3 separate regions of the Homo sapiens genome follow, and regions 1 and 2 are each linked to region 3. The links come from fine-mapping of genetic effects on gene expression. A gene starts in region 3. Each other region holds a variant in brackets. All regions are shown on one strand. Distances are from middle to middle. Region 1 overlaps ABHD12B (abhydrolase domain containing 12B). Region 2 overlaps TRIM9 (tripartite motif containing 9). Region 3 holds the start of ABHD12B (abhydrolase domain containing 12B).

Evidence for each region.
Region 1: its variant is fine-mapped to the expression of ABHD12B in substantia nigra (GTEx, PIP above 0.99).
Region 2: its variant is fine-mapped to the expression of ABHD12B in cerebellum (GTEx, PIP above 0.99).

What each region holds. Positions count from the first base shown.
Region 1 is chr14:50,901,933-50,910,115 of GRCh38, forward strand. ABHD12B (abhydrolase domain containing 12B) reads left to right here. Exons shown (of 13, transcript NM_001206673.2): 11 at 1,457-1,535; 12 at 2,142-2,260; 13 at 2,407-3,038. The coding sequence ends at 2,434. PYGL (glycogen phosphorylase L) reads right to left here. Exons shown (of 20, transcript NM_002863.5): 17 at 7,963-8,170; 18 at 6,889-7,023; 19 at 6,339-6,405; 20 at 3,285-3,624. The coding sequence ends at 3,460. Among named protein-coding and RNA genes, the nearest start is that of ABHD12B, 34 kb to the left of the region's middle. The variant C/T (reference allele first, on the strand shown) is at 4,524.
Region 2 is chr14:50,972,287-50,980,469 of GRCh38, forward strand. TRIM9 (tripartite motif containing 9) reads right to left here. Exons shown (of 13, transcript NM_001387360.1): 12 at 7,101-7,263; 13 at 2,980-5,067. The coding sequence ends at 5,005. Among named protein-coding and RNA genes, the nearest start is that of PYGL, 32 kb to the left of the region's middle. The variant C/T (reference allele first, on the strand shown) is at 4,964.
Region 3 is chr14:50,868,593-50,876,775 of GRCh38, forward strand. It overlaps ABHD12B (abhydrolase domain containing 12B), which reads left to right and starts at 3,461. Exons shown (of 13, transcript NM_001206673.2): 1 at 3,461-3,686. The coding sequence starts at 3,583. RefSeq lists a silencer at 6,944-6,993.

The DNA of each region.
Region 1 (8,183 bases), 33 kb after region 3:
ATGCATTATTACTGTATCTAAAGGATTCTAGGGGCAACTATCATGTGACTTACTGGATGGTGACATGAGACATCCTGAATATCATTCTTATTCTTAGAATATTGTTCTGCGCTTCTTAGATGGGCACTAAGATTTGGGTAAAGTATCTATGAATTTTTAGTATTTGCTATTTTCCTCATGTCTAATTCAATGACTTCACCAATTCAGTACTCTCTCTGAATTCATAAACGAAGTTGTATATCTATAGCCTATCAAGACCTTTTAAAGGGCTTGGTAGTGTTAGCGTATGCCTATAATCCTAGCACTTTGGGAGGCTGAAGTGAGAGGATAGCTTGAGCCCAGAAGTTTGAAACCAGCCCGGGCAACACAGGGAGACACCATCTCTACCAAAAAATTTTAAAATTAGCCAGGCGTGGGGGCACGTGCCTGTCATCCCAACTACACGTGAGGCTGAAGTAGGAGGATCACTTGAGCCTGGGAGGTTGAGGTTGCAGTCAACTGTGATTGTGCCACTGCACTCCAGCCTGTGTGACAGAGTGACATCCTGTAAAACAAACAAACAAACAAAAAACCAGCCTAACATTTCTTGAGGCATCTCTGACTTCTAGGCCCTTTTCCCCATATAATGAAAACTCGTCTACCATCCACCTTACTAATGTGACAGCAAATCCAATGACTAGAATTTATCAAGTTAGCCTGTTACAGTTAGAGAATTTAAGAATGCTTCCAAATAGACAGTTGTCAATATATTTTTCTATGTCAACACACTTGAGAAAATCCAACATTCTCAGGGGTGTCAGTGAGTCACTGTGGCAGAGATGGATGGGTATCAGAATTTTGGGGGGACAGGGAAGCATTGCTTGAGAAAGTAACTAGAGTGGGAGACAAGACATTCTTCATGCCATAGCCCTTTTGAATTAGCAAACTAGGGGGTTGACCAGGAAGCTAATCAGACCTGTTAACTGCACGTCCATCCTCTACATTTATGGAGAAAAGTAAACAAATTGCTACAAAGAGGTCTCTGATTCTGTCATAGTTTTTGTTTTATTGAGGTTTTGAGTTTTGTTTTCTTTTTTAGTCTTTTAATAAAATATTTCAGATGTTACAAAATAGGTGGAGTAAAGAAGAATATAAGGTTCTTCTAACACTGTACAAAATCAGTGTTTCAGTGTTTTTTGTTTTTTTTTTTTAGTATTTCCAAAAATCATGCAGAAGTAAATTAATTAAACAGCCAGTTAAATTGCATGAGTAAATGGGAGAGAGGGAAACTTGCATGGAGAAAAAAAGCTACTATGTGAAATTTTTAAATGTATGATATTGTTATTCCTTGGAAGGAAGGAAAGAAATTTCTTGTAATTTAGACAGGCCTCATGTTTTGCTAAAGCTTTAACTTAGAAGAGGAGAAATCTCAATGTATCATTCTTTAACTGAATGCTTTTCTTCTACTTGTCCCTAGTGTTAAATTCCTTTCTTCTCCTCTTCTCATCTTACATGGAGAGGATGACAGGACAGTGCCTTTGGAGTATGGGAAAAAGGTAAACTAAGGGCTCAATGCTGACTGAAATATACTATACTCATTTCACCATTTTTTTCATTCAGCCAAACTTTGATTAGAGCCGAAAGGAGGGTCTCTGACATTATAGGAGATTCTCTACACCCCTAAATAGCCTCTATAGGTTTATAAAATGGGTATCAGCATCCTTGGCTACTTAGCTCAAAGGAGTGTTTGTGGCAGAGCCTGGCTCCTCATCTGGATTGTGTGGAGCTGCAAGTGTAGGGTATCCCAGGCTGCTGTGGGAACCTCCATGTCGTCTCTACTGTAGTGGCTCTAAAATGGAAGACGCAGACTTTTTCCTTTTAAACAAACTTCTACTAGAGTGGGTCCATAACAATTCCTTGGCATTTTGCAGGGAGGTTCAAGCAGGGAAGGATGAGGTTTTATCAGTATTCTATATTAGCTGAGCAGCATTCAGATCTTTAGCTGTAGAGACAGGCAACTGGGACATGGAGAGTTTTCTGTCTCTGACTTAATGGAACAAACTCCCCAAGTTAGCTGTTTCTGTACACTTTTAGGGAAATTGGACTAGAAAAATCTACAGCTTTGAATGGCCATCCTTTGAGTCTCTTTCTGTCGCTTGCAGCTCTATGAAATTGCACGCAATGCATACAGGAACAAAGAGAGGGTCAAGATGGTTATCTTTCCTCCTGGCTTCCAACACAACCTGCTTTGTAAAAGCCCCACACTGTTAATAACCGTGAGGTAAGAGTTGCTTTGCTAAATGTATGTTGCCCTTCAAGGCAATTAGGGCTGCTCTGGCTTACTTAGGCCACAACATGAAAATGTATAATATTTTGCTTATTTAGGTAGGGAAAGGGTGTGAGCTGATCTGGGTCCTTTTTCTACAGAGATTTCCTGAGCAAGCAGTGGTCATGAGTCTGGGAGGAGTGGAAATCTTCAATGAAGACTTGGCCCAAACACCACCTGTGATGTATATTGTTCTAATGTAAAATTGTACTGGGCTGGTCGGATGAGCTGAGGCCATTGACTTCTCTACAAATCACTTGCCATTTTAACAACAGAAAGTACGAATGTTAGGCAGTATGGAATGTTCTTATTTAGCTTATCATAATCTACTTTGTAAAACATGCTGAAACCTCACTGTGGAGAACCAGAATTTGGTAAAATCTAGATCCTATCTAAAAATATGTAGTTATTAAACATTCTGTGGATATTTGTGAATAAGGTAGTTGCTATGGTCCGAATATCTGGGCCTGCCCCCCCAAATTATGCTGAAACCTAATCACCAGTGTGATGGTAATAGGAGGTGGGACTGAGCTCTGATGAATGAGATTAGTGCCCTTATAAATTATGACCAAAAGAGCTCTTCACTCCTCCTACCATTTGAGGATACAGTGAGAAGCCTTCATCTATGAACCACAAAGTAGCCCTCATCAGACACTGAATCAGCCAGTGCCTTGCTCTTGGACTTCCCAGCCCCCAGAACTGTGAGAAATAAATTTCTGTTGTTTATAAGCTACCCAGTTTATGCCATTTTGTTTTAGTGGCCCACAGGGACTAAGACATTGGTCTTTGGTTTGGACTCAGATAGCAGTGTAAGAAAGTTGCTTCTACATAGTTAAGTTTTTTGTATTTTAGTTTAGTTCATTTAAATGGCATTTGAAAGTTCTAAGCAGTTTTCTAATTTTATGACTAGTTTTGGGGTAAATCCTAGCAGTAGCAAAGCATCACTAGATTTGCTATAAAATAAGTTTTGGCACTCATGTAGCCCTTGGAAATTGACACTTTATTTTTAAGCTCTATTACATATAATTTCCCTCCCCATTCCCAGAGATACTCAACTATTATAGATTATTAGCTAACAAAACAAAAACCAGTGAATGTTGTAAAAATGTTCAAGTTCAGTAAGAAGCTATGTTTTCTAGAGACAATTCTAGAGTTCAATTTCCATTGACTTTGTTAGATTCATTGGATAGAGAAATCTTTAGATCTGAAGGTTCCACGTTCCAGATGTTTTGGGCATATTCTTTAATTGTTCGGTCACTGGAGAATTTCCCCGAGGCAGCTATGTTTTTGAGTACCATTGTGTTCCAGGCCTTTGGATTCTGTAAACAACATATGCATATACAGCCCAGAGTCCCAGTGCGCAGTGAGCTTTATAATAAACATCAGCCAAGCACATCCAAACACATTTCATGAGGGAAAATGACAGGAATAAATTATAGTAAATTACAAATATTCTTGTTTGTCTGTTGAGAGGTAGAATAGAATGCACTTTTCTCATATTTAGAGTATAATTCTCTTAGGAATGAAAAAAAGGTATTTTTCACTCTAAGAGAAACCATGGATGTACATTGCCTAGTTGGCAATTCCTGCTATGGTTACAATGTTTTGGCATGTAAGCCATATTTCCCATGCTTTCTTATGAATGAAGATGCTTCCCTTTAAACTATAGGGGAGGAATCCATTGTCTGCTAAATGCCATGTCAAGAGACTTATCCTATGGCTCATAGAGTTTGAAAAACACTACTCTAAAATGTTAGCTATAATGCAGGCAAACAATTCAATGAGAGGCTTTATTGACCTACTTAGCTTTTCTTGTTCTTTCTGAAGATACGCACCCTAGTAGGCTTACACTGAGTCCCAAACACTCCACTGGGGCTTCAAAACAGGGTCAATTGAGTCTTTATCCTTAATAAAAATATATCAAAATCTCATAATTTTTATATAAAAGAATATGATAAGAAGGAATTTATTTTATAGCCTCTTAATTTTGTAAGGAACTCTAAAAGTGTATTGGAAGTGAACAGAACATTATTCAAAAATGTTATCAATGCATTATAAATGCTTACGAGAAAGACTAAAACTACCATCATTCCTTAAGGTACAGCAAAACAGCATCTGAAATTTGTTTATTCAGACTTTGGAAGCTTCCTGTAATAAGAGGAGGATAAAAGCTTTCTCTCTTCATTTTCTTTAACTATTTAAATGGATAATGAATAGA[C/T]TTCCCAGTCATATGGGTCATGTTTACTAAGTCTCAACAATACAATCATTGTTAAGAGTAAAAAGCTGCAATTAGCACTAATGAACAAGAAAGACCGAATCAAATGCTGGGTTTCTAGATGAGCATCGTTTGGATTTGGGCCATAATTTTAACAGAGGAGACATTCACATTTGTCCTTGCCCTTGTTCATATTTTTCTTTCCTGTGCTGTTTTATTGATCTGTCTTGAGGTGGCCGTTCTCTTCCCTGTGTCTTTGCATTCTTGCGGCCTGTATATGGCTTTTCTCTCCAATGTACAGGAAGCAGGTAGTGAGCCCCTGAGCTTAGCTCTAGCACTGCCCTGCTTGTTTGTAGCCATTAACTTGAACTTATTCTGGTCTATATGCCACTGGGGGACTGGCCATTATTCTATTAGAAGATAAGGGCTGTAAAGCAGCACAGGCGTTGAATGATCCTTTTTAAAATCCCAGTGGGACATTTAGGATGACAGTAGGAACTACCCTTTTATCTGCCTTGGGAAAGGAGTAGAAAGAAATGTTAGTAAAACCCACCCTGGAGTCTTGGCACAGAGCTAGCCCCCTCCAGTATCCATTCCTCTAGGGTATCTGAAATTCACTAAAAGTCTCTCCTATCAGAGATGATCAACCTTTTTACATATTTACAAAACACAGCTAGAGAGTTGTTTGATAAAGCGTATAACTTTGCATGCAGAGGCTTATTCACATGGCTCTACCCATCCCTTTTTTTTCCCCTCAGTATAGTATTGTCTTCCTTATTCTTCTTTCTTTTTTTAAAAATTCAATTATGAACACCTTTCTCTTTCTACGAATTTATATTCTATTGATACAGCCCCCTCCATGAGAAGTCCAGAAGAGGTACCTATTTTGCAATTTTCAGAGAATAGGGGTCAGTCCTTATCTTAAAAAACCATGTTTTAGCCTTAGAATCATCATGGCAGGTTTCTCAAATACTGATGACCCCACCCATTACTGGGAAAGAATCTCTCAGTGCGGGGGCTGGCATCTGTACTATGATGAAGCTACCTTGGTGATTCTGATGTGTACCTCTGGTTAAGAATCTCGATGTTCAAACAGGCTCCTTGAGGGAGGGGAGGGAGGGAGAGACCTCAACTTTGCTCATGCTGTGTTCTCAGTGCCAGCACAGTGCCCGGCATAAAAAAGACGCCTAATGCCCCTCTGAGGCTTTATTTCCTTAGCTTCCAGGACATGTCTGCTACAGAGTGGGTGCTCAAAAAATATTGAATTATTTGTGACTTTTAAAAAACTTGGATATTAAAAAATTTACAACTGGCTGGGCATGGTGGCTCACACCTGTAATCCCAGCACTTTGGGAGGCAGAGGCGGGTGAATCACCTGAGGTCAGGAGTTCTAGACCAGCCTGGCCAACACGGTGAAACTCCATCTCCACTAAAAATACAAAAATTAGCTAAGTGTGGTGGCACGTGCCTATAATCCCAGCTACTTGGGAGGCCGAGAGGTGAAGGTTGCAGTGAGTCAGGATCACGCCGCTGCACTCCCGTCTGAGTGACAGAGCGAGATCTGTCTCAAAAAAAAAAAAAAAAAAAAATTACAACTCCTGCTGAAATGTCAAATCTCAACCTTGGCCTGAACTTGGGAAAAGACAAGGTTTTTTTTTTTGTTGTGGTTGTTTGTTTGTTTTTGTTGTTTTTTTTTTGATTGCTTAATGGGGATCTGATATTACATGGGGATCTGATATTTGCATTTAATTAAAAAACCCACATTTTAATGAATCATAGTAAACTGGTTTTCTTTATAAATCTTGGCAATTTACTCACCATGTACAGCTGACTCACTTTATCTTGACACTTGACATAGGCTTCGTAGTCTGCAAAGACTTTAAACCTTTTATTTTGTGAGTGGAAGAGGAAAAAAACAGTCAAAATCTTCATTAATAGATATATGCTAAAATTCCATGTAAAATCATCTTTTGCTTAATATCAGGCATGGCTGGTTTACCAAATTCATATTTCTGTTTGTAAGACTTTTAACCAGCCCTCAACCTTCTTATGGTTCTCACATGTGAGAATGTCATCACTGGGATGCATTTGGAAGTTGGGAATATCAGTGGAAGGAGAAAAAGAGAACCAGATTTGTGTGTGTTATTCTTAAACCTTACTGGCATCGCTGGTGGAGAATATCTAACTTTTTCCCCAAGCCTAAACTACCTGAGCAGATCACGCTAATCTATGCTAATCTACATGAGTGGGTTTAAGTTGGTTTAAGATTGGTTTAAGATTTTCTTGTTGGTTTTAGAGTTGGTTGGTTTAAGATTTTCTTGTCCCCCTTTCATGATCCAAATAGCACCATCTTCTTATGGGAACTCACCTGTCATGATAAAATAGCATGTTGATGATATCTTTGAAGAGGTCAGGCTGCTTGGGAGAAAAAAAGCCATTGTCAATTTGATCAATGACCAGCTTCAGCTCTGGAAGTGCCTCATAGTATTCTTTTGCCTCGTACCTGTGGGGTAGGGGTGGGTGGGTGATAAAAAAAGGCTCTGTTATTGTGTTGTGTGATTAACAACACACTAGACACTGCATTCACTGTGAAAAAATACATTCAGAAATACTAGCATTCAAAGACTTCATTATAGATTTCACCATGAGTATATATAACTTTTAACTAGATCTGTAAGTTTTTCTTCCTGTAAATTTGATTCCTTATAACCAAAGACACTAAGAACAATAGATAATGAAAACTCTAGTCAAACATCAAGAGTCTGATGTGGTAGAATACAGCAAGGTCCATTTCAAAGCAGACTTTATGGCTTTAAATGAACATTGTATTAAGTAGATCAGTTGCTTTTTGGATCCACAGATTCTCAAAAGTTGTTGCTACTGAGTGAAACTGACTTCCAAGGGTCAGGAAGTATATTCAACATCCTCCAAATGTTACTTCTTTGGGCAGTACTCTTTATTTTGTGCTTGAACTCAGGTTAATAAACCCATCCAGATATGAAGTGAAAATAAATGTTTCCAATTACTTCTGTACACCCGTATCTATTCTCTATCACATTTTAGTGCATTTCTTTGATATCTTAAAGGAGCACTAGATCATGATTTAAATTATAGGCAACCCTTCCAACTAGAAACTGGTTCATCTTTTGATCAAAGTAAAAATCATACATACGGAGGAAAAATAGCTCTTTGAGGCCAGCTCTGCAATGGCCGATAACAAATAGCAACTCCTCCATGTGTCTGTACTTTTATTTGCTGGGTTTAATAATATTAATCTGTGGCCAGGAGGCTCTCCTGCCTCATCGTGGGAGATGTTCTGCTGCCACCTCTTATGTGATCCAATTTCAGTGGGATATCGGTGTGGGCAGGAAGCCCTCTGAGGTCACATACCTTCTAGGGGGGAGGGGCAGTCCTGCCTAGCAAAGAGAAGCTATTCTCTTACCCTTTCTTGTCCAAAGCAGCCACATCATCTATCCTCATGCCAAAGATGAACAGGTTCTCTTCCCCAGCTTCTTCTGCCATTTCCACATTGGCCCCATCCATGGTCCCGATAGTTAGGGCCCCATTTAGCATGAACTTCATATTGCCTGTCCCCGAGGCTTCGGTGCCTGCAGTGGAAATCTGCTCTGACAGATCTGTGGCTGGAATGACTGCAAGAAAGGT
Region 2 (8,183 bases), 100 kb after region 3:
GTTCACTCATATTCAGTGCTCCAAATTCTGTGTTTATCCAAAAAATTGGTTCTTCAGATAAACACAACATTTAGGTCGCCTCAGTTGTATGTGATGTATTATGTCAGATCCACGCTTCCCTAAACATCAGCCTTAGTGGAAATAGCTAGCACATATTTTGAGAAATACATACAGGTGTCTTTAGTGTGTTCACATAAATCATAAGGTAGTGTGACCAGAGAATTTGTTTGTTTATTATAGTTCCATTGATTCATAATCAGAAATCTGGATTCAATAGCAAGCCCTCCTTTCTTCTCAGTGAGTTGAATAGATAGGCAAAAGATTAATGCCTACAGCAGAGGGAGGAATAAAGGGACCTCATTTCTAGAAAATAAAATGATTTCTTGCAAATCACTTATTCACTCCTATAAGGAAATATGAGGAATTACAAGTTCCATTAACTTCAGTACCACGAGAAGAGTAAAACATAAGCAATGCGTTCCATTAGGTAGTAAACAGAAGAGCAGAAAACCAGAACAGAGATGGGACCAACAGAGGAGGAAGAAAAAAGTAACATGGTAGTGGAAATGATGGCACCAGCGGCCCATCTGGAGCCACTGCTGCAAAGACTCTGGCTGCAGGGGGCAAGGTGAGCCTGGGGCTGTCTGCTCAACGGAGCCAGTAGGGGCCGGGAACAGGCGAGAGCCCTGCTCCCTACTGAGTTGGCAGGGCCAAAGCCCCAAAATCCCAGGCGCAGCTGCGGCAGCCCAGCCATAACTCTGGACTTGGGCATCCCTGCGCTCTTGGGGGCCTGGGAAGCTCCCCTCCCCCCGTAGGCTCAGAAGTACCTGCTCCCGCTCCTTGGCCTCTCCCTGCTCCTGGTGCCCCCTCCAGGGTGGAGCAAAGTTGTGGTCAAGCCTGGGCGCTGTCGGAAACCCCCCAGGTGTGTGTGTGCTTGGGACAGCACTGTCACACCAGCCTTCTGCCACCTCAGCCCCCTCTGGACTTTGGGTGCTGATGAGCATGGGAGGGAGGCCGAGGTGGAGCCGAAGATAGCCCAGTGCAGGCCTGCAGGCACCCCTCAGCACAAACATCCTCGGTACTGTGGAAGGCATGTTGATGGTGGCAGGAGGAAGTCATGCTCCTGGACAGAAAAGGGCAGGTCCCTGGTGAAACCCCTACCTTCAAGCCAGGGATGGCCTGAAGCCTGGGGGCCAGGCTGCCAGTTCTGGGGTGAGTCCGTGGCCCAGAGTGAGAACTGATGATGCTGTTTCCAGGCCCATCCATGCCTGCCTATGGATCATTCAGTACACACTTCCTTCCTTCTGAGCCCATGAAAACCCTGTGCTCAGCCAGACGTCGACACTACCAGCTGCAGGAAGGAGTTACCCACTCTGGGTCTCCTCTCTGCTGGGGTCTGCACAGACATCAAGGTGACCTGTCTGTGGAGGGAGCTACCCACTTCAGGTCTCCTGAGAGCTGTTCTGTCACTCAATGAAGCTCCTCTCTGCCTTGCTCACCCTCCAGTTGTGCAGGTACCTCACTCTTCCTGGATACAGGACAAGAACTTGGGACCTGCTGAATGGTGGGACTGAAAGAGCTGTAACACAAACAGGGCTGAAACCCTCAGCCACCACCCTCAGCTCACCATGTTGCAGGTGATGAGAAGGAGAGAAGAGCTGTGGCCCTTCTGGGAGCCCATACCTAGGGGCTCCTGGAGCCAGGGCTGTGACACCCTCTTTGGGGCTCTGTGGTTCCTGGTATCTCCAAGCTTCCGGGTGCCACCACATACCCTTCAGCCAGATGCATGTTCCTGTAGTGGAAGCTGTGTGCAGTACATCTGGTCCAGCCATAGCCTCTTACAGAGCCAACAACTTTGCTGGTGCCTGGAGCTGCCTGCCCTGCCACAGCAGCTGGCCTGCCTGGCTGTGTGCAGTGGCCAGACCCAGAGCTCACTTGCCCACACACCCCTTGCCACTCCACACCTGACTCACCCTTAGCAGGTGTGGGATCCAGGCTGGTAGTGTGAGCCGAGTGCAGCCTGCCAGGCCGAGTGGGCAGAATGAGCCCAGTAGGTGCAGGCAGTACTCAGGCAGAAGGCGCTGCCAGCCACAGAGGTTTTTGGCTGGAGAAGTGACACCCCAAGGATCCCGTGACAGAAAGAGGAATGTGTAGAAACTGGAATCAACGGAGAGCAGCAGCAGCTACCAACTGTGTACTATTCCACTCTGTGAGGTTATAACTCAGACCATATATTTGTAGGTAATGTTTTTCCTTTAATCAAGAAACAAAGTGTTTTTTTAGTGGCTAACAACAATGTTAGGTAGATGAATAATGTTGTAATTATTGTTTTGCCATTCAAAGAAATGTTAAAGGAGCTAGGTTTGAAAAAGTCAGTGACACTCTGTTTTGCAGTACTATAAAATTGCAAGCCAAATGTGTGGCTTTTTAAAAATAAAGTAGGCCAGGCTCACGCCTGTAATCCCAGCACTTTGGGAGGCCGAGACGGGTGGATCACAAGGTCAAGAGATCAAGACCATCCTGGCCAACATGGTGAAACCCCGTCTCTAATAAAAATACAAAAAAATTAGCTGGGCGTGGTGGTGTGTGCCTGTAGTCCCAGCTACCCGGGAGGCTGAGGCAGGAGAATTGCTTGAACCCAGGAGGGGAGATTGCACTGGGCCAACATTGCGCCACTGCACTCCAGCCTGGTGACAGAGTGAGATTCCGTCTAAAAAAAAAAAAAAAAAACAGAAGTAAATCCCCAATACTTGGAAGCAGACCCCAGACATCTCCACTGGACATTTCACATCAGGTTAAATTTCATATGAGTAAAACCAAAAGGCAGTGCCACATGCCCAAGGAAACAGGGGAAAGAACACATGCTCTCCAGAGCTCTGGGGGCCTTTCCAATGAGATCTTCCTGAAGAAACATCGCTCTGACAAAGGTGAATTGTCATCCGCAATAGATAAAAACTAAGAAATTCTAGAGACATTTTATTCTCTCATAAAAATCATTTATTGGCACATCAGAAATGACAATTTTTTCTAGTATAGTAGTTGTATGCATCTGTAATTGCAATTCAGTGTAAACTACATGTTACAAGTCACTAGAAATCTAATTAGCAGGATGAATTTAATAAAGAACAAGAGGAACTATGAGTCTACCACGGCCCAGCCATTGAGTCTCATTGGAGAGTAAATCAAATATCAAACTAGTGTTGCCCTGCAACAGTTTTTCTGTAGCCAAGAAAAACCAAGACACACATAAACAGGATAGCACCCATTCCATAAATTAGGTACACTTAACTAGAAAAAGATTGTAACTGATAGAAATAATCTAAATAAAGTAAGCACAAAAGTAAATAATTAGCTATTTACATATATTCCTTTTTGCCAAAACTTTAATTTGTTAGCTTTCCCATCCTATCTCTTCCCTTCTATTTGTTATTCTTGTTTTTTCATGGTGAATTTCTTGGCTCACTGAAAAATATTTAGACAACTAATTAGAACTTCTTTCCGGGTCCTACCTTTCCTAAAACTTTATGACAAACTAATGAATTTCAAGGGTAACCTATGTAAGTCTATCTCTATATAGAAGTAAGATGCATTATTATTCTGCTATCAGTCATAGTAATGACATACAGTCCCATGTTTTTCCAAACATTGTTTGGACTACTCCAGAAAATTAGGCTGTGAATGGCAGCAGAGTGGATGGATTTTTCATTCATAACAGGCACAGATAGTATATATGGAGACAAGCATGTTTATCCTGAGAATGTGAATGCTGTGGACTGCAACTCAAGATCTCCCATTACTGAGAATGGGTCCTTTGCCCTCTGGTCACTCTTTTTTTTTTCAACTGTCAATTTTTAAGGCGTGGTATCATAGCAGCATCAGCAAATAAGAATGCTGACATCATTTCTACCAAGAAGGGCTCTGTGATGAGTGGCAGCAGGTACCATAATTAAATAGTGCAGCTGAAAAGGCATTGAGTTGGTACATTTCTGGTGCTATGGCCAGAATGTGTGGATTTTTAGCATCATTCTAGGAAGCCTGAAAGATCTTGCCCATGAGTCTCTTTGACCCTTGCCCATTTCCTTTCTAGTACATATGACCATTTATAATTATTTTATTTTTGCTTTTTCTCCTACTGGAATATAAGCTCCGAAGGGCAGAGACCATGCCTGTCTGTTCACCACTGTGTCCCCACAGTGTCTAGAACATAATGTTCTAGTGTCTTGAACAGTGCCTGGTCAATAGTAGGTTCTCAATTAAAAGCTTTTATTAAATAAACGAACCAAATCATTAAGTCCCCTGGTTTGCCTGTGTCTTAGAGACTTTCCAATTTTATACAGTGGCCAGGGTTCTGGCCTATCCTAATTATAGAGCCATCCTAACGATCCTACCCTGATGTGAACCTGTGTAGCGGATATTTTTGTGCTTCAATGAGTAGTAAAACTTCTCAGTGATAGATTCATTCTCCCAAAGCTTAGCTCTGCAGAGCTAACGCTACAGGAGAGGTAAGAGGGTAAGAACATTCTAGCAGGTAAGCTGTATGCTACAAATTCAGCTCATTCTTCCCTACCTCCCCCTACAACCTCATTGTTTGACAGAAAGCTTAAGAAAAAAAGTTAGCAGGAGAATTTTCTCCTGGCGGTGCCAGTCCAGTAAGTCACCAATAACCTGATCAGAAAAGAAAGAAAATATAACTCACCTACATAAAAAATTAAGTTAAATAAAAGCAAAATCTGGGAGTGGGAACCAAGTGACTTGGTGGGCTGTCTAGGTCCTTTGTTGGTTAGAATTGTTGGACATGGAAGCGGAAGCAGGCATGACAGCGGAGGAGAGGTTGAAAGGGAAAAGGGCAGAGCTGTGGGTGTAAAGACTGCAGAGGACCAGCTTTTCTCTCCTCCTTCTCCCACTCCTGCCAACTCTGCACCCCACCACGGCTGGCTGAGCTCCTTGCTGTGGCTCTCGCAGG[C/T]GGAGGTAAGAACAGGCAGCTGGCGCCTCCACGGCACATCCTTAGGCTATTGATGCTCTGCTGGAGTAGAAGTCGGGGACTGGGAGCCCGGTGTGCAGCGTGACCTGGGGAATGAGACTGTGAGTCCTGAGAGGCATCGTGCATCCCCCTGTCCCTTTACACAGTGTACCGTGGGTGTGTCCCTAACTCAAAAAGTGTTCTGTTTGCTTCGCTTTAAACATCTAGGCTAGCAGGCATTAAACGGAATTCAAGAAGAATCCTGCCTATGGTAACAGGCTGCTCACCATGGTGGGCTCTCAAATCCTGGTGACATTTGATTATATGGTTCTTAGTCACCTGCCTCTTTTAAAGGATTCCGGGGAGATTGTGTTCCTTATAACTGAAGACACAGGCCTTGGTTTTCAGATAGAGGAGCCTACTGGCCACACCACAGTGACCACTGCCAAATCCATGGATAGAGGACAGATTCGCAGAGACAGCACTTCCCTTATTACTTGTCCACTAGTTATTGTAATTAGGGCAAACATTTCTTTCTGGGGTCGCATAGATGATTGCCAGTTGTGAAAAAACATGGCATTATACTATTTTACCAATTTCCGTGTATCCCCAAACCTCAATGGATAGCTATGGATAAAACTAGAACCATTTCATGCAGTTCTTATCCCTGTCTTCTCCAGCCCAAGAGTCTTTATCAATAGATAATCAGAAGGTCCTGAAAACCCCTGAAGAGCATCTAGTATAATATTCTTTGAAAGGGAAATGGCTAATGTGAAAAACCTTGAATGGGGTTTTTCTGAGACTCGCTTCTAGGGTAATTTATGGTTTTCTTTCTTAAAGTGTAGAGGCTGAACTCTGAAAGATTAGATTCCAGCCTTCTAGAAAACCCCATCTCCTTGCAGGGAGAAGGGCAGGGGCTGCTAGTTTGCAATCAATGTTACTGCACATACTGAAACACAACAATGAATTTTGATAAATAGTTTCCAAGGCTGGTTCTGGATAGGGCAAAAGTCACCTGTAATTCTCAAGCCTTATCTCAAGACAACCATTTGTGGAATGAGGCTCATAGTTGTTAATGAGATGCCCAGCTCAGGAGGGAAGTGAAACCCTAAGTCCTGACAGCGGCTGGCAGGGCACAGCTCTTCCCCCATGCATGGCTCTGGTCCCCCTTCCAGGCCCCAGCCCAAGAGTCTCTCCACCATTCCTTGCCCATGCAAGGCCCCTCATGCCTTAGAAACTGTGCACAGGCTGTTCCCTCTGTCTGGAAGGCTCCACGCAACTCACTCCCTCACTCCTTTAAGGCTCAGCTCACCGGTAACTGCGATAAGCCCTACCTACGCAATACTGTGGCTGCCCTTCCCAACCACACCACTCATGGGCCCTTGGTCTTTTCTCCACTGCACTAAACACCTTCTGACACACCATCTGATTAACATTGTAATTATGCTTATTATTTATTGTCTGTCTCCTATCACTAAGATGTAAGTTCTATGAAGGCAAGATTTTTATCTGTTTTTTTGTTTTTTTTTTTCACTGATGTATCCCAGACACTTATAACTGTGCCTGGCACATTAAAGGCATTCTATAGATATTTGCTGAATGAATAAATGAGAAGCTGTTGTTTTATTCTATAATAAATAATAATTGACTAAGTTGTAGGTAGGGACTATGTTTTCTACCCCTTAGGACCTAACAGAGCCAAACAAGAGTGCAGAGAAGATGCTCAGATTTTCTGATAATGATACTAATGCTTCAGTCTTACACCCTCACCTCTTCTCAGGCACTCCTGAGCTTTGTTAAGTCATTCTATTTGTTTTCATGCCAGTTGGTTAAAGGCTTTCGTTTCTATTTAGAGGTGAAACTAGAGCTACAGAGATGATCATTAGCCAACCATGAAGAGAATTCTAGTTTCCTATGTGCTATTAACTAGTCTGCGTCCAAGTATAAAGAAGGTGCTTATGCTTGGCGTGGAATAAAATAAGTTGCCAGTGCTGATCCCTTTCTCTCCTCCTCTCCTTCATATCTTGGTCTGGGCCTTACGCTGTCAGCTTCCCTCTCTTCGGTTGGATTGAACGGCCCTGGGCAGCCTTTGAACCGGTAGCCAGCAACAGCTGTTTAACCTCAGGGGCAGGGTGCTTACCTGCACGTTCCTGTTCAGGCTGACCGCAGGGAAGAAGAGGCCCTCCACGTTATCAAATGCTATGGGACCTTGTTGTTCATCGTTGATAAAAAATGTCAAGTTTTTTCTATTTAAGTCGAGGAGGACCCCAATTGTGGCCCCTTTTGTGATCCCTCCCTCAGTTCTGTAGGAAAAGAGAAAAATTGGGGTTCATTTCCTTGTGGTCACTCTAGAAGCTCCCCCCTTTTGTGTGGTGAAACCAGTGTCTTGCAACCTGTTTATAATCATCACTACCCCAAAACCGTTTCCCTAATCATCCCTTGCACATAAATTTTAATACCGCAGATATACTGTATACCTGTTGGTACTGTGTGTATATCTGTGTTTTATACATAACAAGAGTATGATTTTTTGCTCCCTCCCTGCCACCATCAATTTTCACTTCCTAGGGGGAGATATCTGCCCTTGTGAGTTGCTCTGCTGTTGCTGAGAGTGAACTCATTCATTAGGGTCTCTACCACTGAGTCACAGCAGTAGAAAACCAAACATTAAAGACTAGGAAAAAGTCGCCTTTGGGCTATCAGAGCTCTGACTCTAGGAATATTGCACACTTTGTATAAATGGTGTGAATTAAATATCATTAAATACAAAGTGACTTAATTTGAAAGTCAAAATAAGAAGCACTTTTGTTGCACCTAAACCACATGCATGAGAAATTGGATTTGGGGCCTTATGTTATCCATTAAACAGAAAAACTCATTCCAGAAGGATAGCAGTTTTTTGGCTTGTTGCATTTGAATTAAGAACTTGGAGGCTGTCTGTGAAATGACAGCACTGAAGAAGAGGCTTCTTCTCTGTACAGTGAAATAATTATACTCTGAGATGTAGTGATTTTAAAGAACCTGCATACAAATGCCATTTTACAAAGAATTGTGTCTTATGCTTCAATTGATGGTTTCACAAAATGCCATTAAAAATGGACGATCAGATTTGTCTTTCCCATTTTTTTGAGATCTAGCAATATTGAACTTCGTCCTCATCTCAGCAGAGCACAGGAATTTGTGTCATTCATTTCCTCTTGCATGCAGGATACAGACTGTACAT
Region 3 (8,183 bases):
GGTTTATTTCAATCTCAACAATATTAGATTAAAAAAAATTCCTACCTGTGCACGGAAAGCTGAGAAAGGGTAAAAAAGGTACATGGTGCTTATGTTGGTGGGATTGTATAATGGGGTAGCCACTTTGGAAAACAATTTGGCAGTTCCTCAAAAAATTAAACATAGAGTTACCTATATGACCTAGCAATTTCACTCCTAGTTGTACAATAAAGAGATATGAAAACGTAAGTCCACACAAAAACTTGTATGCAAATATTTATAACAACATTATTTACAATAGACAAAAGGTAGAAACAACCCAAATGTCCACCAACTGATGAGTGGATAAGCACAATGTGGTATATCCATACAAAAAAATATTATTCAGCCACCAAAACGAATGAAGTATTCACTGAGATAGCACATGGATGAACCTTGAAAACACTATACTGAGTTAAAGAAGCCAGACACAAAATGCAACATATTGTTTAATTCATTTATATGAAATGTCCAGAATAGGCAAATGCACAGAGCCAGAAAGTAGATTAGTGATTGCTTAGGGCAGGTGAAGGGAGGAATGGTGAGTGCTAATGGGTATAGGATTTCTCTGGGGGGCTGTGATAAAAATGTTCTAAAGTTATTGTAAATAATAGTGATAGATGCACAACTCTGAGAATATACTAAAATTACTGAGTTGTATACTTTAAAATAGTGAATTTATAGTGTGTGAATTTTATGTCTCATAATGCTTTATTTAAAATAAAAGAAAACACAAGGGGGATGCATACTTTCTTTTCAAGATATCTAGGTCTTCAACACCCAACTGCCTTATTACCAGCAGTTTACCTTCACAGCTGTACAGCAGCTGAGAGGTGGTCAGTCTTATTCCCCATTCCCTGTTTTTCCAGAATAATTTTAGGTGGTCAAATTAATCTGTCTCCAATCAAGATTTATTTTTCTGCTAGTGCAAATAACATTCAACTGTTGGTTTCTGATGTATTTGTACCATCAGCTTTGTCTTAACATTTATACAACATGACATAGGACATGTTCATTTATATAGTTTATCTGTACATTTCTTAGGTCACTTTTCAAAAGTCAGGTTTGTTGAGGTATAATTCATATTCAGTCAAATTCACCTGTGAGTTATATGCATTGGTGGATATTTATAGTAACCACCACCACACTTGAGATGTTGACTATTCCCATCACTCTAAAATGTCCCTTCGCACCCCTTTGTAGTCAACCTCCCCTCCCCACCTCCAGCCCCTGCTATCCCCTGATTTAATCTCTACCCTTAAGACACTTTTCATTTCCTGTTCTGTGTTCTCATGGTTCATCCTGAAATGAATCTCTACCAGCTGGGATCCTGATTTGTATCCCTACGGTGCCCAATGTGGTACCTGGTACCTAAAAGGTGCTCAGTAAATGGGTGCTGAATAAATGAATGCATATTTTGTTTTTCAGGTTCTATCAAATCATATGGGAGACTTTGTTCCCTGATTTCCAGGATGTGCCATTTGAAAGGGGCTATTTATACTGGGAAAGACCTTCTTGCAGAGTCTTATGCAACCTTTCAAAAAATGGGCCATAGTGATTTCCAATTTCAGAGATTTTTGCTGAGCATTTCAAACATATCCCTAGACTTGGGGCTTACAACTTTGTTCATCCAGCAAGTAGATGGAAATATCCTCTCTCAACCTGAGCAAGTAGATGGAAATAGACTCTGGGACCATATGCAGCTGTTCTTCTCTCCTCCAAGCTCTCCTCCCCATCTTTGATCCCTCCATCTCCACTTGGCATGGCCCCAGAGTCCCATCCAGAGCTTCCCTGAACAAGTTCTGGGAGATTCCAGACCACGTTTATGAAGAACTCCAAGGGTAGAGCCGACATCTGCTTGAAGCTTTCTCATCATGCAGGTTGTGGCTCTGTGAAAACCCACCTGCTGCTGGCTCATCAGTCAGGCTTGGATCCCATTGGTCCTTTCTGAGCTAATTCCTCTTCTATCTTGATGTGTGTGAATCAGAAACTGAACATTCCAGCCAGGTGTGGTGACAGAGACCTGTAATCCCAGCACTTTGGGAGGCCGAAGTGGGAGAATTGCTTGAGGCCAGGAGTTTGATAGCAGCCTGGGCAACATAGTGAGATCTCATCTCTATACACACAAGCGTGCGTGCGCGCGCGCACCAGGCATAGTGGTGCATGCTTGTAGTCCCAGCTACTTGGGAGGCTGGAGTGGAAGGATTGCTTGAGTCCAGGAGTTCAAGTGAGTTCAAGTACAGTGAGCTATGATTGCACCACTGCACTCCAGCCTCAGTGACAGGGTAAGACCATGACAAGAAAGAAAGAAAGAAAGAAAGAAAGAAAGAAAGAAAGAAAGAAAGAAAGAAAGAAAGAAAGAAAGAAAGAAAGAGAAAGAAAGAAAGAAAGAAAGAAAGAAAGAAAGAAAGAAAGAAAGGAAGGAAGGAAAGAGAAAGAAACAAAGAAAACAAACATTCCCAGAGCAAGTATAAGAGTATTAACAGGCAGTGAACAAAATCCCCCTTTGCCCTGACAGTTCCATGAAATGAGCTAGTACTCAAAGAAAACTTCCCTTTCTTGAAAAGTGTGGGTATTTTCCCCCAGACCATCTTACTATCCTCAAGCAGATGGGTTTCCACGCACTTTCTGGTGCTGACAGCCCCCTGCTGTGCCCTCTGAACACAGACACTACAAAAAACCCATTTCACCTCTTAAGATTTGCACCTTGCCTCCAAGATGAAGCCTTGATGCTGGCATCCGAATGTATCCAAATAAAACCTAATTCCCTTTCTTCCTCCTTTGTCCCCACACATGCAGGCCGTGGCTTCCCTAGAGTAGCTCTGGTAGACAGTTCCTGCTCCTAGGAGACAGTTGCACAATGTAAACCTGCACCAAGATGTAAACCTGTACCAAGGTCAAAGTTTCAAGGTGTGAACTCCTTGGTACAATGATGAGGTTCTGCTACATGCTGCTACGTAAACAAAATACCGAAAAGGTCTTAATTTTTTGCTACATGGAGTAATTGTGTTCATAACCCCACGTGGACAGACAAATCATTAGTAAATCAAAGGGAGCCAAAGAAATTCTTTCTATAGTAAGGGTGACAGGGTGGGGGGCTGTGAGGATTTTGGGGGTGGATGGGGAATTGGAGACAAGGAGGCTTCAGAAAAAGAGAAAAAGAAAAAAGTGAGGTTTAAGTAGAGGAAAGCTTATATTCTTCATGAAAATCAAAAGCTGTGGCGGTCAAACTTTTGTGTTAGTAGTACCATGGTGAAAACATATTTTACTGCGTTGCGCGCGCCTCACACCCACACACACACAGAAGTATAATGGAAATCAATTTAAAATAAAATGTAGCATAGCTAGCTATAAGCTTAGGACATCTGTGTGTGTGTGTGTGGCCGCGAACAGCCTGACCCGGGCGGAGCGCACCCTCGGGCCGCGTCTCCCCCGCCGTACCAGCCTGCCTGACCGCGCGGAGGAGGAGGGCGGGCGCGGTGCCGCCGGGGCGGGAAGGTCGCGGGCGGCTGCTCCGGACTGCAGCTCCCGCGGCGGTGGCGGCGTATCGGGACACGGCGCGGGATGGACGCGCAGGACTGCCAGGCGGCCGCATCGCCCGAGCCGCCCGGGCCCCCAGCCCGTAGCTGCGTGGCCGCCTGGTGGGACATGGTCGACCGCAACCTGCGGTGAGTACCGCCCGGTCCACCCCTGGCCGGGCCCCGACGGCTCAGGCTGCGCGGGGATGGGGCAGGGGGCCAGGGCGCGGCCGAGGCCGCAATCCCCTCTGCTGGCCCGGGCCCAAGGCCCAGCATTGTGGCTTCCGGGGGACCTCGGCGGCCCCCTGAGAACTCTAGGGCTCTTTGGTTGCCCTTGCTATCCTCAGCCTCAATCCCAACCTGGACCAGCGAGACTCTCAGGTTTGGTATTTCAGGAAGTTATAACTTTTGGGGGCTTCTGAAATACAGATGCCAGGGAGATGGTTGAATTCCTACACCAATCTCTATTATCTGACCATTTTGCTAACATACAAGATGGATCTGAATGACATTAGTAATAGTGACAATAGTAATATATGTTGTAATCTTGGACGGGATCCTCTTAGGTCAAGGGCCTATCTGTGTAGGTGGAAAAGAATCAGAAAATCCGTGCCTAGTTCCCTGAGTGTGAACTCCCTGGCATGTATTTAAAGAAAACACCTCCAGTATGCTAAAGATGTACATAGTGTGTTGAAACCATAACTTGGCATTACCTGTGCCAAGTTCTTATGTTGTTTAAGTCTGAAATGTATCAGTGGGTGTTTCGGGTTTTGTTTCTGTTTTCTTCCTCCCATGGATCCTCGGTTTAAACAGTAATCTTAAATTACCTGAATCCACCTGCAACATATTGTCAGTCTTGTTTGCACTGAAGCCAGGTATTGGTTGGAGATCGTGGACCCAGGACACGTGGGTATTTCATTTAGTTTTGTTGGTGTGGGAAGGTATTGGCATTTTTACTTCCCTCTTTCTATTCCTTTTGTTTAATTTGTGCTGATTAGAAAATATCCAAAAATTACATCCAGACACAGGAGACCTCACTTTGGAGTGCCCAGAGTGATGATGACAAACGGGGATCTTTTCTCTCTCTCTCTCTCTTTTTTTTTTCTTTTTTGAGACAAGGGTTTCACTCTGTTGCCCAGGCTGGAGTGCAGTGGCACAATCTTGGCTCATTCCCAGGGCTCCAGCGATCCTCCCGTCTCAGCCTCCCCAGTAGCTGGGACTACAGGCACCTGCCACCACACTGAGCTGATTTTTGTATTTTGTGTAGATATGGGTTTTCACTACATTGTTCAGGTTGGTCTCAAACTCCTGGAGCTCACAGATTCCACCTGCCTTGGCACCCCAAAGTGTTGGGATTACAGGTGTGAGCCACTGCACCTGGTCTCTTTTCTCTTCTATTCCTTTTTATTCTCATTGCAGACAGCAGAGTGCTGGCAGCTCTGCAGGGGCCCAGTCACCTAGAACCCATGCCTCCCAGCTCTGGGTTGGATCTGAACACGTGGCAGAATGTCCTGATTGCACTTGTCAAACTGCATATTAACAGGACTTCTCTCCCAGATGTGGTGATTCTGGGAACGTTGACATCTAATGTTTTTCACTTTGATGGTCTCTGTGGAATTGATGGCTGATTATTTAACATTTATTTGGCAGTAAAGGGCATTTATTAGGCAGAGAATCAAAGTTGCACATCATACTCATAGAGAATAACCCACTTTGTTGATAATGGAGTGGGAGATAGGGAGTTGGGGACCATCTATTACTTGCCTTACTAATTAGTGAAAAAAGTCTCAAGAGACACTTCCTGAAAGAACAAAATACTAGCGTATGTCTTCATCTGAGCAGAAGATTATTGGCTACCATAAGATGTGCTGAGGCTGAGGCCCAGACCCATTTCCACTATCCCAAGTCCTCTTTGATTCTTGGAGCCGGGTTCACTTAGGTGAGCAAACCTTCATGGAGGGCTTGCCATGCCCCTGGCCCTGATCATGGCACTGGAACTAGTGGGATGTGTTGTGAGACCCAAGAACATTTCATCATATGATTTTTTCAGTGGCTATTTTTTAATGCCTTGGGAATCTAGTTATTTATTTTACAAAAATTTTTATCAAATCCAGTTGCTGCTTAAGGTGGGTGGGCCAAGGAGAGTAAGTCTCCACTTTACAACTGGTTTTCTTTAAATTAGAAAAATGAGGCCAGGCATTGTGGCTCACATCTGTAATCCCAGCACTTTGGGAAGCCAAGGCGGGCAGATCATGAGGTCAGGAGATGGAGACCATCCTGGCTAACACAGTGAAACCCTGTCTCTACTAAAAATACAAAAAATTAGCCAGGCGTGGTGGCACATGCCCGTAGTCCCAGCTACTCCGGAGGCTGAGGCAGGAGAATTGCTTGAACCTGGGAGGCGGAGGTTGGAGTGAGCCGAGATCGCACCACTGCACTCCAGCCTGGGTGACAGAGCGAGACTCCGTCTCAAAAAAAAATAATAATAAAAAAAGAAAAATGGAAAATGTGCTCCAGAAGGAAGTTGGGGGAAACCAAAGGTTTATTTTCCTCCTCATTTCCCCCATTCCACCCCAAGTCATTACAATCCTAGATAGTGCTCAGAAAATGTGCAGGAGTAGGCTGATAAATGTGTTCATTCTTTCCACAGCGTTGGTTCTTTATTATCTATTGGATAGTATTCTAGTCTTGGTCACACAGCAGTAAATAAAACAGACAAAATCCTTGCTCTGTGGAGCACACATTGATTCATTTGCAATTGTAAGTAAAAAAAAGAAAATGAAGTCCTTCCTCTTTCCTCTGAAGCTACCAATAAATGTTGCTTCCTTCTCCCTTACAAAATAAATGCACTCTCTTTCTATTTTCAACCTATGCGTCAATATTTACTGAGCTCAGCCCTGGGCTAGACAGAGGGAAATGTAAAGGAAGCATTCTATGCCATGTTGTTCTTGTTGTCTGTGGCCTGATAGAGTGGAGAAGACAGGGCTAATAATGGGAAAGCCATCACAGAACAATTCAAGGCCAGCTGAGGCCCCGTTATTATTTGTGGGAGGAAAGACAAGAGAGGAGAGGTCACCATGGAATGATCTCTCCAGGAGACTTTGACAAAAAAGAGATACTTCCATGGGTGTGAAGGAAGAGGGGATTTGGTTGGGAGGATGTCTCCCGGTGCTTGGTGACAAACACATGTCGACTGAGTGAATTGGCACACAGGTTGAAGGTACCTGTCTTAATATTTGAAATAGTAAATGTAGTTAGATTTGGGCTTCCCAAAGTTGGTTTGCAGAAACCTCTGAGCATGAGTGATTCACCCTGTAGCAGCTCAGACTCCACCAGCTTTCACCAGTAAGAATCATCCAGTTAGGTTCTGAGTCCCCTGTGGGACGCTGTGTGGTTACAGCTGCAGCTGATCAAAGGGCAAGTGAAAGAACACCAAAGCACCAAGGTGGCCGTTTGATGTGGCTGGCCGTTAGCGGGGATTGGGCTGAAACTGCATCCTCTGCTCAAATAAGGTCTATTAGCCACTGGTGACTTTTGATCCCTTACTGATCTAGGGGAAGTCAAATTGACAACCCCTTAGTTAAAAGAAGCTGCTTTGCATTATTGATGCTCTGAGGATCTGGTCACTCTGTTCTCTTCCCGCAGTGCATCTCAGAAAAGTGCCTCGAGCTATTTGAGAGAAGGACTGTGTATGAATTATTCCTTAAAAAACAGACACACATTTCCCTCTACTGCCTCTGCTTCCCAAGCAGACCTTCAAAACATAGCTTAGCGGGAGACTACCCTGCCTACCTTCAAAAGACAGCTTAGCTGGAGACTAACAGGCAGGGTGGAGGTGAGTGAGGGGAGCTTAGAAGGAAGCCAGCAGGAGCCAGCAGCTGGAAGGAGGCACAGTTCAGCCTTGGGTTCAGTTCTGTCCATTTGGGCTTGATCTGTGGCTCAAAGTGGCTTCTCTGGGTTTTGATTTCTTATCTCTAAAATCAGAACAACAATGTCCTCTCCTTCCTGCCGCCTTCATGGCAGGGGTGGTGGGGTGCTATTTTAAAGTATTATGAAACAATCATTTTCATTTCTTTCTTGCTGATTTTATGAGTAGGCAATTGCCAGCGTATGATGTATTCAAAAATCTATCCATTACCCTTAGCCCACATATCTTTTCCACTTCTTGCAGAACTGCTGGAAATTCATCAGAGATTCATTATCTTCTCTCTTCGTGCCTCTTCCAAACACATATAAGTGCTCTGATTTTTAAGTCATTAACACTTCAGGGGGAATTAATTTTTTTAGAGGTCTTTCTTTGATGACTTTGTTATCAGAGGGCTCCTGAGAATACAGGAGCAGGAAGGAGGAAAGAAGAAAGGACGGGACCCTGCTGAGAGGGCTAAGGTGCAGAAGGAGATCTTAAAACAAGATTGTCTATGAGCAGAATTTTGCCAGAGGCCAGCTTTGTTCCTGGGGTTCATTTCTGCTTACATGGATGTCACCAAGACTGTGACATCCTGGAGATCATTATAAGACTATGGGATCAGACAGACCTGGGTATGTGTGGCTCTGCCATTCATTGACTTGTGACCTTGGAAAGATTACTTAACTTTCCAGTCTCATTTGCAAAGCAAAGGTAATAATTATCTTCCAAAAATGCCTCTG